Homo sapiens: one gene and its partner. The protein of the gene in region 1 purifies or fractionates together with the protein of each later gene. This does not show direct contact. Each region holds a gene or a part of one and is shown in the gene's direction. Other genes may lie near its edges.

Evidence for each region.
Region 2: the proteins of SPARCL1 (region 1) and FNDC8 purify together in Homo sapiens (affinity purification with mass spectrometry; one large-scale study listed by BioGRID and IntAct). This does not show direct contact.

Annotation. Positions count from the first base shown.
Region 1 is NC_000004.12:87,526,305-87,530,763, reverse strand, and holds the start of SPARCL1 (SPARC-like protein 1 isoform 1 precursor), read left to right. Parts: upstream 1-1,387; 5' UTR 1,388-1,719; intron 1,720-4,268; exon of another isoform or gene 4,269-4,459.
Region 2 is NC_000017.11:35,124,352-35,127,981, forward strand, and holds part of FNDC8 (fibronectin type III domain-containing protein 8), read left to right. Parts: intron 1-2,690; coding exon 2,691-3,066; intron 3,067-3,630.

The DNA of each region.
Region 1 (4,459 bases):
GGTTTATTTTGGTTTTATTTTGTTTTTGTCAGTGTTTTTGCTTTTGGCCAGACGTTGGCATGCATTTAGAAAATCTAAATTAAATTAAATTAAATTATAATTATTCATCTGATGATAATGGAACATTTACAGGATGCAAAGCACTGTGCTAGGCACCAGGAGAATGCAGAAAGGGCACATCCCCTTCCTTCAAGGAGTTTACAGCTTTCTCAGAAGCAGGTATGATATATATATGTGTCTATATCACATAATAGAGGGATTATAGATAAGTTACACAAGTGTGGCTGTCAGCCATGGTAGCTGATTTGGAATCCCATCCTGTAAGTTACAGTTGGATACCCTAGAAAAAACACCCTTACTAAGCTTTGGTTTCCTCTTATGTAAATGATAATAGCTAACATTTATTGAGTGTCTGCTACGTGGCAGGGGTGTTCTATGCAGTTTATCATGTTAACTAACTTAAAACTCAGAACAATTGCAGAGATAGATATTATCATCATTTCCATATGTATATCCCTGTCTTATAGATAAAAGCACTGATGCTTTAGAGAGGTTATATAACTTGTCCCGGGTCATAGTTAGGAAGTGGTGAAGATAGGATGCAAATCCAAGCTGGCTGGCCTCAAATTCTGCCAATCCAACCACTGTATGACACTACCCCTCAAATGGGAACACAGTAAAACTTACCATGCGTAGTGAGGATCAACTGATAATAACGCATAAAAAGCTGTTAGCACAGTGTCTGACACATAATAAATGTGTGATAAATGTAGAAGTAGCAGTAGAAGAGATTAGACACATACAAACAACCAGAATCCCGGGCCAAAAATAAGTGCACACCTCCATTCTTTTTATGGGAAACCTCCTTCTTAGATACCAACCATTATAACCATGGAGTTACAGTGGAGAGCTGTGTTGAGGGGAGAACTGCAACATTTCTGAATCAGCATACAAGTGATCTATAATATAAGGAGCAATCATTTTTATATATGTCCATTTCCAAATCTCATTCAAAGAAGGTTAAGGTATCTGAAGTACCCTTCTATTAAAATTCAGACTGTATTTGCTAGAACAATTTCCAATTGAGCAACGTAAAAATGCATCTGCTGCCATTTCTCTTCTTCCCTCCTTTAATCCCTACTCCCCAATTTCCTTTAGAAAGAAACAACAGCATGGAGTTTCTTTTCAAGGTCTTAAAATAAAAATCTCCAAAAAAGGGATGCTGCTTATAAAACCTTTCAGAGTTGTTTGAAAAAGAAAAAAAATGCATAAAGAGCCAAGTGCTTATATTCTGGCCAAGTTATGAGGCTCTGAGAACAAGAGCTTGAGGGGAAGACTGTTAACCCCATCCACGCCACCAGAATTAGCTCTTTCCCTTTTGGTTTGCAAGCACTGCCTGTAAAGCCCTCGCATGAGAGGCCAGCCTGCTAGGGAAATCCAGGAATCTGCAACAAAAACGATGACAGTCTGAAATACTCTCTGGTGCCAACCTCCAAATTCTCGTCTGTCACTTCAGACCCCCACTAGTTGACAGAGCAGCAGAATTTCAACTCCAGTAGACTTGAATATGCCTCTGGGCAAAGAAGCAGAGCTAACGAGGAAAGGGATTTAAAGAGTTTTTCTTGGGTGTTTGTCAAACTTTTATTCCCTGTCTGTGTGCAGAGGGGATTCAACTTCAATTTTTCTGCAGTGGCTCTGGGTCCAGCCCCTTACTTAAAGGTAAGTTGTAATAAATTTACGGCATTATCTAATTGCATTTGTTAAGCTGATTTGCGTGATCTGATAAAGCTGTCAAATATTTTTGCCTAAATAATACAAAGCCATTTATTTACCAAAAAAAGTTTTGTGTGATTTACAGAAAAGATACTTCATAGAGAATTTTACCATTTGTATTCATGTTTTCTTGTTTCCTGCGAAATTAAATAGCAAGTACTAATAAATGATGGTGATTTTAGTGAAGACCAAGAATAGAAATGTGGAACTGTTGATCGCCTCAGTAGCATTCAGATCTTAGTGAAGCCTGAATCCTGAAATGTGTTTTGTAGAAGTACTTTATTACATATATGAAATAAACTATAAAGAAGGTAGTTTTTAAAAAAAATTTCAAATCAAATAATTTGTATGTTTTCCATGTTTAAATTATCTAAAGTTATTCAATCTCCTGAGCCTAACAGCAATGTAGAAACGGAACTTTTTGCTTTTCCAAAAGGTAGGAAAATTTCTCCTTTTATACTATATTCTTGTTTGATTATTTTTAAGTTATTGCGATTATTTTCCCTTTCTTGGTTCCCTTTTACAGCTTTATAACTAATTATTTTTTGCCTCCTACTATCATTTGTTAAGATGCTCACACATAGACCTAAAATTTCTCTAATTCTTGATAATGTCTTATTTACAAAAGCAAAAATGGGAGAAGAGAATTAAAGAGCTAAAGAGATTATGGTAACTCATATTATAATGTACTACCATTTCTGGCTCTCTTTTCTAAAATAAAGCAATAATGTAGGTTGTGCTTATTCATCCTTCCCAGGTATTAAAGGTCACTCTGCAAGAGAAAAAAAGAAAAGAAAGGAAAAGAAAAGAAAAAAAAACATGCTTTTAACTGCAGATCAATACTGTTGAAACAGTACACCAAGAGGTACTGCAGAAAGAGTATCTCTTTTGCACTGCCTTTAATCTGCAAAGAGGTTAAATATGTCACCTTGGCATTGTATCTGAGCTCTCCTCTGGCCCAGGGCCTAAGCACATTGAATAGAAATGTTCACTCAGTCCAAGTCAGCAGAAATCTTTTTTTTTTTTATTCTCCCCTTTCTCGTAGACACCAGCTTTTTTCAGTTCACAGCTTACTCAGTCAAACCTGATGGTTGTGACTATTGTTAACTATGATTTTTTTTTTATTCAAAACACCCTCTTTGGAAAGATTTAAGTTAATATTTCTGTTCATTTAATAAGATCTAGCAAAGCAGAGCAGTTTATTTCATCTACTTATCGTCCAATCAACTAGTGCCACTTTCCACATTTTGGAGAAGAATATTCACATGTTATTTATGAACCTTGCCTTTTTCTTTCAGAGAATTTTTCACACAGCCATTGAGCAATTAGAGTGCTGGCATTTCCTTCCTAGGTCTTTTGAGATTTAATCCCCAGTAGCTCCTCATGGCACAGATTCACATATCAACTAAGTAAAAATAATAGTGATGACAGAAATAAAATGAATAGTGATGCATCTGGACAACTTGAAAACATTATTTATTTCATTTCCTCTTGACTGTTCTTTTTACTCAGTTGACTTAAACACTGCTATTTTACTTAAGTTTAGCACCATATCCAGAACTGGTTGGGAACATTTTTCTACCGAGAAGGGCATAAACAACTTGTTAGAAGATCTGAAGTGCACATAGTCCTCACTTATCCCTCTAGAATGATCTTCAGTGGAGAAGGAGACCCCCATAAATAAATCCAGTAGAACTTCCCAGTAGGCCTGGCTTCCTGAGAGATGTCCAACCAGGCCAGGGTCTGTTTCTTACGGGGCTCACAGGGCATCTTCTGCCAAAGGCTGAGTTAGCGATGATAGCATTACCTAGGGCTAGCCTGGCTTTTGTCTTAGTCATCAAAAGATGGATAGAACTTTGAAAAACAGAGTGCATGGTCTTGATGATTGTTCCAAAGGTGGGGAGGCAATCTAATAAAGTGAATAAGGCCATGACCTGTGGTTTATATCTGACCATATGGACCCTGTTTATATAAGACCGTGGTTTATATCCAAGCTTTACCACAAAATAGCTCTGTGACTTTGGGCAAACAACTTCATCTCTTTGTGCCTCAGTCTCTTCATTCATGGAAATGGGATTATAAAATCAGTAGCTACCTCAGAGATTTGTTGTAAGAATTAAGTGAAGAAAAGAGCCATGTTTGGTACATTAAAGCAATCAATCAATCGTAGATAATATGAAAGTACTGGACTAACTATATGTCCCTATTGAAACTCCGTAGAACGGGAACTGACTCTAGATATTTTCTCAGGGTTTCTTCCTTGTACTTATACGTTTTGCTCTATAATAAAATATGAATGCCAGGTGTATGCCTCTGAGGCAGCACAGCAGAGTGGACAGAGCATGGGCTTCAGAGTCCAATGCATCTGGGCTAGAATCCTGACTCTGCTTCTTACAATCAGTGTAAGCTTTGGCAGTTACTTCCCACCTGCATGACTCAGTTTACTCATCTGTTTAGCAAAATGGGGATAATAATACACACAAATGAGGTCGTTGTAGGAATGAAATGTGATGTTTATTAAATGCCAAGTATAGCACCTGGCAGAGAAGTAAACACATAGGAAAGTTGACTGGTTGCTCATAAGGAATCTCGTATATCAGTGAGGCCTCTGTTACATACTTGCAATGATTTCTCTGGTAGTAACAATGGAGATCAAGAAGGAAATATTCTTTGAATTGCCTTTTTT
Region 2 (3,630 bases), on another chromosome or scaffold:
ACCCCTTCTCTACTAAAAATACAAAAATTAGCTGAACATGGTGGCCGCACCTGTAGTCCCAGCTACTCGGGAGGCTGAGGCAGGAGAATCACTCTCACCCAGGAGGCGGAGGTTGCAGTGAGCTGAGATCACGCCACTGCACTCCAGCCTGGCTGAGAGAGTGAGACTCCATCTCAAAAATAAATAAATAAATAAATAAAATAAACTATAATAGAATTGGAAATTCCAGAGCCCATTGCACACAGAGTAAGTGTTGGTCTGTGAAATGTTTGTCTTAGTTATAGGCGTATATATGCATGTACTAAGTTGCCATGGAAAGTGTATTTTACTTTGGGTAAAGGTAAAAAAAGATTTGAAAGCCAAACTTTTTGGCTTGGTGTTCTTCATCAGTTAAAAAAATATTGTTTTTTGTTTGGCTGGGGGCAGTGGCTCACGCCTGTAATCCCAGCACTTTGGGAGGCTGAGGCCGGCAAATCATCTGAGGTCAGGAGTTCGAGACCAGCCTAACCAACATGGTAAAACCCCATCTCTACTAAAAATACAAAAATTGGGCAGATGTGGCAGTGTGGGCCTGTAATCCCAGCTACTCGGGAGGCTGAGGCACGAGAATCGCTTAAGCCAGGGAGGCGGAGGTTGCAGTGAGTCGAAGTCACACCAGTGCACTCCAGCCTGGGCGACAGAGCGAGACTCCAGCTCAAAAAAAAAAAAAAAGAAAAAAGAGTAAAAACAGAAAAAAGAAATGTTAAGTGGTGGGGATCATGTACAAGGTTTTTCTTTGTAATAGCAAACATCTCATAACAATACAAATATCCATATAGGCCGGGCACAGTGGCTCATACCTATAATCCAAGCACTTTGGGAGGATCACTTGAGCCCAGGAGTTCGAAGTCAGCCTGGGCAACATGGCAAAACCCTGCATCTACAGAAAAACACAAAAATTAGCTAGACATGGTGATGTGCACCTGTAGTCCCAGCTACTCAGGAGGTGGAGGTGGACGGATGGCTTGAGCCTGGGAGTTTGTGCCACTGCACTCCAGCCTGGGCAGCAGAGGGAGACCCTGTCTCAAAAAACAAAAACAAAAACAAATATCCATGTAATGGAAAATCATAAAACAGTAAAAACGACTGAACCAGAGCTACATGTATCAAGATAGATGAATGTCAACACAAAGTTGAGTGAAAAAAGCATGTTGCAGATGGGTATGTGCTGAATAATATCTTTTATTTGTACAACATCTACAAACGTGAAAAATAATAGATCTTGCCTAGGGATAACATAAATATGTAAGAAACCTATAAAGACACACATTGAGTAATAAATACACAATTTAAACTTTACTGTACTCATTACTTGTCGGTCGAAGGATGGGGACTTTGGTGGGAGACAGAAGTGTCTGGGGGGCTTTACCCATAGTGATAAGATTTTATTTCTAAAGGTAGATGAGGAGTAAATGGAGGTTTAATATAATATTCTTGATATTTTTGTATAAGTCTAAAATACTTCATAATTTTAAAAAATTCAGAGTGGAAGAAATAAGTTTTTGAGCATCCACACCAACATATGTATATTTGTTTTATTTTATTTTTGAGACAGGGTCTCACTCTGTTGCCCAGGCTGGAGTGCAGTGGCAGGATCTCGGCTCACTGCAACCTCCACCTACCAGGCTCAAGCGATCCTCCCACCTCAGCCTTCCAAGTAGCTGGAATTACAGGCAACCGCCACCATGCCCAGCTAATTTTTTGTATTTTTAGTAGAGTCAAGGTTTCGCTATGTTGGCCAGGCTGGTCTTGAACTCCTGACGTCAGGTAATACACCCACCTTGGCCTCCCAAAGTGCTGAGATTACAGGTGTGAGCCACCGCGCCTGGCCCATATATGTATTTGTATTTCTGTTAATTTTACGTGCTAGATATTAATAGGTATTATTAAATGCCACTAAAATGTAAGTAAATATTAGTAATTCCATTAAAATTTAAACAATAGTAAATAAACATTAGTGAAATTGAATGTATTACTTCCATACCCCAGTAGATCTTTGTGGTTATTCCCTGGGGCATTTGCACCCCACTTTGGAGGGAGGACTTGCCATTTTAGCATGTTTTTTAAATTGTGGTTTGCAGAACACTTGCATCAGGATTTTCTAAGCTTTTTTTTTTTTTTTTTTTTTTTGAGATAGAGTTTCACTCTGTCACCCAGGCTGGAGTGCAGTGGTGTGATCTCGGCTCACTGCAACTTCTGCCCCCTGGGTTCAAGCAATTCTCCTGCCTCAGCCTACCAAGTAGCTAGGATTACAGGTGCCAACCACCGCACTCAGCCAATTTTTGTGTTTTTAGTGGAGACAGGGTTTCACCATGTTGGCCAGGCTGGTCTGTAACTCCTGACCTTGAATCTGCCTGCCTCGGCCTCCCAAAGTGCTGGGATTATAGGCGTGAGCCACTGCGCCCAGCCAGGATCTTATTAAAGATGCGGATTCTCTAGTCCCATGCTAACTGGGGACCAGGGACTAAAAGTCTGCATTTTTAGTAAGTGCCCTGGTGAGTCTAATGCAATGCTATAGAGCAATGAGGCTGTTCCAAGCTGTTTGCAAATGGCTGGGGATGCTGGTAAGTCAGGCCCAAGGCCTGCCCTCAGGTGGAACGGGCTGGGGTGGCCTCCTTCATCTGATTCACCTGTCTCCCCTTTTGCTCCAGGAAGCCGCTGCCAGTAGAGGATTCAGACTGCAGCTCTGATGAGACCAGCATCTCTGCCTTCTCATCCACCTTGCTGAACCCCATCAAATTAGCTGTGACCCAGCCCAACAGCAGCTTCTTTGCAGGGATGCTGGAGGGGGAGCTGAACAAACTCAGCTTCTCCCCAATGGCCAAGAATGCAGAAAATGAGGACCTGGCGCTCGGCCCCTGCCCATGCCCATCGAAGTCCCAGATGGCCACAAGGGGCCTGCTGGACCTTGACAACCCTGAGCTGGAGACAGAAACCTCCTCAACGCACTCAGAATCTTCTGTGGTTGTGGACCTGCCGGACACCCCCTTCATCTTTGAGCACACCGTCAACAATTCCACAGCTGTGGTGCGTTTCCCTTGCTCATGCGTTCAGCAGAGGCTTATTGTGCCAGGCACTGAGCTGAGCTCCATGGGTAGTGAGAAGGTGCCTGCCACCTGCATGTCGACCTCAAGTTCACGGTTTAGGAAGGGAGAGGATGTGTCTGTAAAAACTCCAGTGCAAGACAGAAAGGGTTCAGTGCTGTAGGAAAAGTTCAGAGCAAGTGCCACCAGGAATTCAGAGGGAAAGATATTTCCAGATGCGGGAATAAGCTTGGTGGCTTTTGGTAACATCTGAGCTGGGATGTAGAGGTAGCATGTAAACATCTAGAGGTGGAGGAGGGAGGCATTCCCTGGAGGGGCGGACCCTAGCAAAAGCTCACAGGAAAGTGAGGGAGGAAATCTCAATTTGAACAAGATGGTAGGTGATCTGTAGGAACATGAAAGCGTGAGAAGCCCTGGATGAGGACCTGGGATCGAGTGAGGCTACTCAGAATTGCTGGGCCTCCTCCCTAGAGGGTCTAGGGTGAAGCCTGATAATTTGCATTAGTAACAGATTCCCAGAGGATGCTGTGGCTCCCCGTCCGCGGGC